2 separate regions of the Homo sapiens genome follow, and region 1 is linked to region 2. A link means that fine-mapping ties the variant in region 2 to the expression of a gene that starts in the linked region. Tissue or cell type: visceral fat. Region 2 holds a variant in brackets; the other region holds the start of a gene. All regions are shown on one strand. Distances are between the middles of the regions.

Evidence for each region. PIP is the estimated chance that this variant, and not a neighbour inherited with it, causes the effect.
Region 1: ZNF226 starts here. The variant in region 2 is fine-mapped to the expression of ZNF226 in visceral fat (GTEx, PIP above 0.99).

Annotation. Positions count from the first base shown.
Region 1 is chr19:44,162,458-44,167,606 of GRCh38, forward strand. It overlaps ZNF226 (zinc finger protein 226), which reads left to right and starts at 2,643. Exons shown (of 6, transcript NM_001032373.2): 1 at 2,643-2,685; 2 at 3,300-3,350. RefSeq lists enhancers at 2,335-2,484, 2,545-2,664.
Region 2 is chr19:43,875,195-43,880,343 of GRCh38, forward strand. ZNF404 (zinc finger protein 404) reads right to left here. Exons shown (of 3, transcript NM_001033719.3): 2 at 4,816-4,942. Among named protein-coding and RNA genes, the nearest start is that of ZNF404, 6.2 kb to the right of the region's middle. The variant G/A (reference allele first, on the strand shown) is at 2,659.

The DNA of each region.
Region 1 (5,149 bases), 290 kb after region 2:
TATGCTGGGGATTGATAATACCACCTTCACATTCTTGTAATTCACTAGGAGGACTCAAGACACCCTATGTTATCATAGTCACTATGATTTATTGTAGTAAAAGATACCAAGTCAGTTGAGCAAAGGGAAAATGTGCATGGGATGAAGTCCAGAAGAAATCAGGTACAGGCTTCCAATAATCCACTCCCTGTAGAATCATTCATGATGTACTGTTTTTTCAGCATTGAAACATGTGAAATGTCTACCCAGTAAGCTCAATGGAGACTTAGTGCCCTAGGCACTACGTTGTGTTTTGTTTTGGAACTGGTCACATAGGCCAGCTTGGGCCAAAATTCTAGATTCCCAGAAGGAATTCAGCATAAATCACATTATACAAATAGCCGGGGCATGGTGAGCCACTCTCATCAGAGAATTGTGGAAATCCTCCTGAAATTCAAGTTCCCAGATACCAGTCAAGGGCTAACCTTATATCTTGCGCTGCTATAACAGAATACCACAGATTAGGTAATTTATAAACAATATAAATTTATCTGTCATAGTGCTTGAGGCTGGGAAGTCCAAGGTCAAGATGCTGGCAGGTTTAACATCTGGTGAGGGCTGCTGCTGTCTGCTTCCAATATGGCATCCAGTTGCTGCATCCTCTGGAGGAGACAGATGCTATGTCCTCATATGGTGGAAGTGATGAAAAAGCAAGAAGGGATTAAGTTTTAACAAGGGAACACCATCAAACTATAGCATGTTGCAAGCAGGCCTTTTAAGTACAACAGTCTCAGGCCTATGTTAACTCTTTTCTGAACAAAGGGCTTCAGAAATCCAGTACCTATATTCTTTTCTTTCTTTTTCTTTCTTTGTATCACCAGATACCACATTAGGTCATCTTCCTTCAAGGTAATTTGTAACCAAAACCAGTAGACTAAACCAAATAATTTCTTGCCCCTCTGCCCCATAACTGATAAGACTGTAGGTACAGTCTACATCTACCCTCCTCATGACCAGAGTTTTCAGGTTAGTCACAAGACAGCTGTAGAAGCTGGGAGCTATCTGGCTTTGTTTTTGGTTGGTTGTTGTTTGTTCACAGTCAAGAGGAGAGAACTGTTTCATTTGTAATATTGTATAGTTCATGTCTCCCAAAATGCATGGCTACTCTAACTCCCATTCACACACAAGATTAATTCCTTAGCTCTTACCTAGTATGCCCAGCCCTTGTGGGATCATTCAGTTTTTTCATCTGTGGGCCTAACTTGCCTGTTCATCTTTGGCCGTTGGGATTTCCCTGTCTTAGCTTTGAGTTTAGCTACATTTTAACGCTTTAGGGGATATTGTCACATAACATTTTTCTATCTTTGAAAAGATCCACAATATTATGTAATGATTACCACTATCTAATCCTAGAACTCTTTCATCTGCTCCCAAAAGAAATCCCCTACATGAGCTGGGTGTGGTGGTGCATGCCTGTAGTCTCAACTACCCAGGGGGCTGAGGCGGGAGGATCACTTGAGCCCAAGAATTTAAGGCTGCAGTGTGCTATGATCATGCCTGTGAATAGCCACTGTACTCCATTCTGGGAAACATAACAAGACGCTGTCTCTAAAAAAGTAAGAAAAAAAAAACCCTACATATTGACAGTCACTCCCCATTCCCAACTACATCTCCCCAGCCTTGGAGACAACTAATTTACTTTCTGTCTCTATGGACTTGCCTATTCTGCACATTTGATATAAATGGAATCATACCATATATGGTATCTTGTGTCTGGCTTCTTTCATTGGACATAATGTCTTCAGAGTTCATCTATGTTATAACATGAATCAATATTTTGTTCATTCACATTACTAAATAATATTGCATTATATGGCTAGACCACATTTTGTTTATCCACTCATCAGCTGATGGACATTGGGTCTTCTCCACTTTTTGACTATTATGACTAATGCTGCTATGAACTTTTTTAGAACAAGTTTTTGTGTGGATATCTTTCAGTTCTCCTGGGTATTTACTTAGGAGTGAAATTGCTGGCACATAAGCCCCAGATCGGGTGCCAGCAGATTCAGTGTCTGGTGAGGTCCCGCTTTCTAAGTCATACATGGTCCTTCTGGCTGTGTCCTCACATAACTAAAGAGGCAAAGGAGCTCCCTCAGGCCACTTATAAGAGAGCATTAATCCTATTCATGAGGGCATTGCCCTCTTGATCTGATCACGTCCCATAGGTTCCACCTCCTAATATCTTCTTGGGAGTTAGGATTTAAACATACGAATTTGGTGGGGGCCATAAACACTCAGACCATAATAATACCTAAAGAGAAGTGAGGGATTCTGGGAAATGAAAACCAGGAGCTCAAGGTAGTTGGACACTTCCACATCAGAAGGCTTGGACATTCCGGAAGTGTAGTCCAGGAGGGCGGTACTGTTCTGTTTTTCCCCCAACTCCAGCATTCTGTGATATGTAGTCCGGAGTTCCGTGTAGTCGCGCATAGCTCAGCTGCAGTAAGGCTGTAAATGTTTCCCCTGCGGAATCCTGGGAACTGTAGGTCCAATCGTTCTAGGTAGTTGTAGGCACTTCCGGCTCGAGGAAGGCAGTGCTGTGGAATTCTGGGAAGCGTAGTCCAGGTCCTCCTGATACTCGCAGGCACTTCCGCCCAGGAAGACGACGTAGCAGCCATCTTTTCCCTGGCTTTGGTGATTCAGGTCAGCTTCTCAGGAACCTTTCAAACTTCCCCGAAATGCACTTGTGGTCAGCAGCTAGCGGTCTTTTGTTTGGGGAAAAAAAGGAGTAGCGGCTAAGAGCGGAGGTTTGAGGGGCCAGGATGCTGTTTTGCGTTTCCCTGGGCGGAGCTTGTTAGAATTGGGGGCGTACTGGCTTCGGGCGGCTGGGGTGATGCTTCGTCGGGTTTGAAGGTCTCTCGGGCTGTTCGCTCCCTCATTGTGACTCCCCCACCTAATGAGCCAGCCCTACCACTTCATACAGTATCACATTGAGCGAGTTAGTTAATCCCCGTGCCTTCGTTTGCTGTTCTGAAGGAAAATAAAAGCAAAAACTTCCTAATAGAATGTTTTGAGAGAAAACGAGGTAATACAAAAAGTGTAAAACTGCCTGGCACGTGAATTACCAATACTACTGTAATTTTCCTAGAAACTCCCGTTCTGTGGCGAAATTCTGTGAGTCCATGAAGCTGGATTGTCCCTGACCTCTTTTGAGGAAGGAGAGGGTTGCTTCTAACTGGTCCTGGGAGATGCCACTGTGATGTATCCGGGATGAAGACACAATCCTGGTTACTTCATAGCCTGTTTTTCTTCCCCAGCCCTGACTTCTCAAAAAGCACTGCACAGAGGAGGAGGCAGCAGAACCCCATGTGAGTAAGACTTGTTGTTATTCTTGTTTTATTCACATAAATCAGAGAATGTGTGGGGTCATGTATTTGGGCATGAGAAGTGATTATAATTTAGCGTTAGTTGCTAAGTTCCATTCTAAGGGGTTTATACAAATGAACACCTTTCCACTATACAGTGGCTCTGTGAAGTGATACTCTTTTTCCGAGGAGACTGAGACATAAGAACATAACTTGTTTGCTCATAGCCACCTAGCTAGTAGGAGGCAGAGCTAGCATTGAAACCGAGGCAGTCTGAGTCTAGACCTGAGTCTTCTTTGGTATGTTCTGCATGAGCCATAGGCAGCTGGCTAGTATCATGTGAAAATAGGTTGGGACTTCACTGTGGGGACTTTGCTCAAGGTCTGGGCTATTCTATGACTTTTAAAAAATAGTGGCTGGGCACAGTGGCTGACGCCTGTAATCCCAGCACTTTGGGAGTCTGAGGCGGGCAGATCACTTGAGGCCAGGAGTTTGAGACCAGTCTGGCCAACATGGCGAAACCCCATCTCTACTAAAAATACAAAAATTAGCCAGGCGTGGTGGCCAACACCTGTAATCCCAGGAGTTTGGGAAGCTGGGGCAGGAGAATCGCTTGAACCCAGGAGGCGAGGCTGCAGTAAGCTGAGATCACACCGGTGCACTCCAGCCTCGGCAACTGAGCAAGACTCTGTCTCAAAAAAAGAAAAGAGTTTTTAAAAATAGTTTTCTCAATTATTAGTTTTATTTGTTTCAAATAATATAGAGGTAACACATAATCATGGAAAACACAGAAATACATTTAAAAAATGTAAATTCCCCATGACCTTAGGGTATAAAGATAACAACTATAGTTTAGTGCCTTTCTGTCAAGTTTTTCTTGTATATATTTCTGTTTATTAGGGGCTGTTTTGGGAGAGGGACTGAGTACAGTGCAACACTACTCAAACTGTGGTTCACAAAGCAGCAACATTGGCATCACCCAGGTAGAAAGGCTCATTCTTGAGCCCTACCGAAGGCCTTCTGATTTAGCATTTTTGCAGATAGGACCCAGAAATCTGCATTTCAACAAGATCCCAAGGTGAGCGAGATGCATGTTAAAGTTTGAGAAGCTCAGGAAAAGGTCTTATCTGGAAACTCAGGACTAGAAAACTGACCCTGCCAGATGTCACAGATAAAACTGAGCTGGCCATACTAGAACCCTACTCAGTCCAGTGATTTTTCTTTCCCACTAAATATTAACTGTCAAGTTTCTTTGCAAAAACCATGACATGAGTAGAAGGCAGCTGTCAAGTCTAGAGTCAAAATGGAGAAACTCAGAGTCCTGAAGATCTATTTCTCCCAGGCTTTGGGGAGTAGATTCCTTCCCATCTTTTGTACTGGAGGCCTTCTGCCTGAAGTGGGAAGATCAGCTACCTATTTATTGTTAATTAACGTTAGATATTATTGCCATAGTTGTCATCATCTCGTCATCGTTATTATTCTGATTAATGACTTTCCTAATTTCTTTAACTTTTTTTTTTTTTTTTTTTTTGAGGCAGAGTTTCACTTTTGTTGCCCAGGCTGGAGTGCAATGGCGTGATCTCGGCTCACTGCAACCTCCGCCTCCCAGGTTCAAAAGATTCTCCTGCCTCAACCTCCCAAACATCTGAGATTACAGGCACCCGCCACCACACCGGCTAATTTTTTTGTATTTTTAGTAGCGATGGGGTTCCACCATGTTTGCCAGGCTGGTCTCGAACTCCTGACCTCAGGTGATCCACCCACCTCGGCCTCCCAAAGTGTTGGGATTATGGGCATGAGCC
Region 2 (5,149 bases):
GGTGTTCATTCTTTCCTTTGCATAGCCATGCTTTTCTGTTTCTATCTCAATCAAAGTAATCACGTGTTGCATTAATTTTTACTGTAATGTTTTAAATAATTTTTTTTTTAAATCTACAAATAATGCCTGTAAGGTTGAAGGTTTTACTTCTTTTCATTCTACACATTTTCAATCTGTTGTGTTTCTTCAATGCCTTTCCCAAATTCTACCTTCTATTCATTTAAAGCCAAGGTGGATCATTCTTGAATTCTACAGAAATGCATCTCAGTAATTTTTCAGGAATTGCACGAATTAATATATTGAAAGGCTTATCAAAGTCAAAGCAAATAAACCTGGGGATATTGGGAAAAATAAAGTAAAAAATGGGGCAAGAGTCTAGGAAACTGAGTGCCTAGTAGTTTGCAACAAAGAATATATTGGACGTAGGCTGAAGATTGATAATCTGTGTGAGGGAGCAGCCTTTGAAATCTAATATGCTAAATGGGTCAAGTATTGAAAACAAGTGGAATTCTGTGAAAAAAGTATAAATTTAAAAAGTCAAAATAATACAGATGTTATCCTCTGAGCCAATGCAATAAAGGATAAGTAGCAATATCAAACAGCCAAAACACTTCCTATTTATAAACAGAAAGTACTCAACAACTACTCTTAGGTCAAAGACAAAATACAAACTGAAACTGTAGAATTTCTTGAAGACAGTGATAATGGAGATACTACATATCAGAATCTATGGCTTTCAGTTATAATGCACCAAGGCAAACTCAAAGATTAACATGCTTACATCTAATTAAAAATAAAAGAATTAAAATGAATAAATGAAGCATTTCATTTAAAAATTAGGGAAAACAGCCAGGCTCAATGGCTCATGCCTGTAATCCCAGCACTTTGGGAGGCCGAAGCAGGCAGATTGTTTGAGGCCAAGAGTTCAAGACCAACCTGGCCAACAATAGGAAATCTAAAATTACAAAAATTAGCCAGGTGTGGTGGCACACACCTATAGTCCTAGCTCCTTGGGAAGCTGAGGCACAAGAATCATTTGAACCCAGGAGGCAGAGGTTGCAGTGAGCTGAGATTGCGCCACTGTACTCTAGCCTGGGCGACAGAGTGAGATTCTGTCTCAAAAATAAATAAATAAATATAAATAAAAATTAGGGAGACATTAGGAAAAGAATGATGGACTGCAGAAAAGAAAAATATAATACAAGCAAAATTTAAATAAAACAGTAGAATTAACACATACAAACCATTATTTCCTTTATACCTAAGGAATAAAAGATAGGAGGGAAAATCCAAATATAATGACAAGGGGGAAATGACCATCAATAAAGAAATAAAGAATGTTAAAAAAATCATACAACTGTGCTAATATATTTCAAATGTACATGAAATGATGAATCTTCCTGAAAATAAAATTTATCAAAAGTGACACCAGCTAGACTTACTGGCTGGCTTCTAGCAAACAGAATATGAAAAGGGAAAAATAATAACTTTACAGTGAAGAAAAATGACGGACATCACCTTAAACAAATTTATAAGGTTAATACCTCAGCAATAAATCATGCTGATATCATGTATTTCTGATACAATATGATGAGAAAGCTACTTCTCTGGTATTCTTCCCCAAAGCCGATAATCCCAGTTTAATCATAAAAAATTCAACAAACCCAAATTGTCCGGCACTTTTCAAAATACCTGACTAGTACTCTTCAAAAAGTATCAAGGCCAGAAAGGACAAGGAAAGACAAAGAAACTGTCACAGGTAGGAGGAAACTAAAACACATGATGGCTAAATGCAATGTGATATCCTGGATTGAATCACGGAATAGAAAAAAGGACAGTGGAAAAACTGGTACACTGAATAAAATCTATAGTTTTGCTAATAGTTTGCCTATAGTTTTGTTAACAATGTTAACTTGCTAGTTTGCATAAATGTACCATGATTATGTAAGATGTTATCATTATAGGAACCTGTGGTACCACATTTGTAACTTGTCTATAACTCTAAAATTATTTCAAAATGAAAGTAAAACAATAACAACAAATAGACTCCAGAAGAGATGGAAAATCTAAACAGACCAATTTCCATGAAAAAAATAGAAAAAAAATTTAAAATATTTTTCCCCACAAACAGCTGGTCACAATTAGTTAGCTCCCTGTTGGCCAGGCTTCGGTCTCTATATACTATTTCCCATTAATGTGAACTAGGGTGCCTTGGAGAAATAGCTAATTCCTAGTTCAGGGAGGGAAGATACAAGGCGAATCTGGAACCTCTTGTACTAAAATGCAAAGAAGCTTTTAAAGATAACAGAAAATAACTTGTGCTTTTAGTTATGAAACATTAAGAGGGATCAGATTTCCCCTTTTACTTTATTTTTATTTATTTATTTATTTATTTTTTATTATTATACTTTAAGTTTTAGGGTACATGTGCACATTGTGCAGGTTAGTTACATACGTATACATGTGCCATGCTGGTGTGCTGCACCCACTAACTCGTCATCTAGCATTAGGTATATCTCCCAATGCTATCCCTCCCCCCTCCCCCCACCCCACAACAGTCCCCAGAGTGTGATGTTCCCCTTCCTGTGTCCATGTGATCTCATTGTTCAATTCCCACCTATGACTGAGAATATGCGGTGTTTGGTTTTTTGTTCTTGC[G/A]ATGGTTTACTGAGAATGATGGTTTCCAATTTCATCCATGTCCCTACAAAGGACATGAACTCATCATTTTTATGGCTGCATAGTATTCCATGGTGTATATGTGCCACATTTTCTTAATCCAGTCTATCATTGTTGGACATTTGGGTTGGTTCCAAGTCTTTGCTATTGTGAATAATGCCGCAATAAACATACGTGTGCATGTGTCTTTATAGCAGCATGATTTATAGTCCTTTGGGTATATACCCAGTAATGGGATGGCTGGGTCAAATGGTATTTCTAGTTCTAGATCCCTGAGGAATCGCCACACTGACTTCCACAATGGTTGAACTAGTTTACAGTCCCACCAACAGTGTAAAAGTGTTCCTATTTCTCCACATCCTCTCCAGCACCTGTTGTTTCCTGACTTTTTAATGATTGCCATTCTAACTGGTGTGAGATGGTATCTCATTGTGGTTTTGATTTGCATTTCTCTGATGGCCAGTGATGGTGAGCATTTTTTCATGTGGTTTTGGCTGCATAAATGTCTTCTTTTGAGAAGTGTCTGTTCATGTCCTTCGCCCACTTTTTGATGGGGTTGTTTGTTTTTTTCTTGTAAATTTGTTTGAGTTCATTGTAGATTCTGGATATTAGCCCTTTGTCAGATGAGTAGGTTGCGAAAATTTTCTCCCATTTTGTAGGTTGCCTGTTCACTCTGATGGAACTACCCTGGAGGCTCTGGCTGAGTACTGATATGAATTTACATGTGAGCAAACTAATGAGGCAAAGGAAAGCACCACCATATAGGGGTAGGCAGAACAATACCTGAAAGTCACCAAGGGTAGTTAGGGGATAGTTCCTGTTTCCACCAGCCAGGAGTGGTAAGTTGGCCCTAAGGCTCTACAACTACTTTTCCCCTGAAAAAACTCCCTGATTCTAAGTACAGCAGGAGTTAAAAGAACAGCGTTTACAAAGAGGTAGCTGAGCATTATCAAACTGAAAACCAGCAGTGACCCATTTAATTCCTGGTTGTATTACTGTCATCAGCCTGCATTCTATCAGACTAACAGAGGAAAACATAAATACCCTCTGGTGGAAGATAGCATCATCTGAAACCTCTTCAGTTATTTTATATGCAATGCCCAGCATACAATCACAACTACTAGTAACTTGAAGATGCATTAACAAATGACAAATAACAAGATTAAAAGAAAGAAACAATAAAGAAGCAGACCCCCAGATGATACAAAAAATGAGGCATAAAAGAATTAAAAAATTAACTATGATTAAAATGTTCCAAGAAAACAGATGAAAATTTAGTAATAAAAGGAAAGCAAATAAAAGAATGAAGATTTCAACAAGTATTTGGAAGTTATAAAAGAGAATTAAATTGAATTTCTGGAACTGAAAAAGACAATATCTGACATGAAAAACCCCTCTTTAGAAAACAGAATAAGTGAGCTGGAATACAGGTCAACAGGAAACATTCAAACTCCATCATATGAAAAATAGAGGGGAAAGAGAGGAGAAAAGCAGATAAGGACATGAAAAAGTTGTGGGATATGCTCAAAAGGTCTAACATAGGTGTAATTAAAGTCCCAGATGGGAGGAGAGAATGGTCACCTATCTTCCAAAAACTGAACAAAGACTGCCCCTTCTGCATGGAATCTATCAGATCACTGGAAGCCAACAGGCCAACTGCTAGAACTACAAAAATAACAGTAAAAAAGAGAATAATCTTAATTCATTCTACTACTATAAAAATTATGGAGGCTCTTTTGTGGTAAAGAGAAAACCATGGTTTTTTATGTAGGAAGATTAGCAATTAAAGTATTTACAGACATTCTGAACACACATATAATTTAAAATTTGTTTTTGCTGATAGTGTCTTTGCAGAAAAATACCAGAATTCAAACCTCTAGTCATTTAGAAAAAGAAGTAATTATAGGACAGGGCAGAGGCAGGCATAAAGGCAAGTGAAGAATAGTGAAGATTCAGGTGCTGAATGGGGGTGCCCATTCCACCTAACAAACTTCAAATATGCCCATTTCCACCTAACAAACTTTGAGAATATGGAGCAGAAATGTAGCTGGTTTCTTGGCATAGACCATAAAATATACAACAGAGAAGGCTGATATTCTAGAGAGCATATTGTACATCATTTTGTGCAGATATTCTTACCCAATGAGACCAAGTTAGTATAATTCTCCAACATCACATCTCTGTACAAATCCCTCTGATCCGAGTTTAAATATTCCCACTCCTCCTGAGAGAAGTCTATGGCAACATCGCTGAATGTCAATGGCACCTGAAATGACAAACCTGTGTATTATTTGTAAAAGTAAAGAAGACTTTTCAAGATGGAACATTAAATTGCAATAAAGGGGCAATATGTAAAAAGAAGTAGTCTAGAGTTACAAGATGATGACATGGTTAGATAAGAGTAAATAAATTAGCATGTCTTAAGTAGAGTGCCCACACAATCTTAAGGAATCCTGTTGGAGCACACAAAATT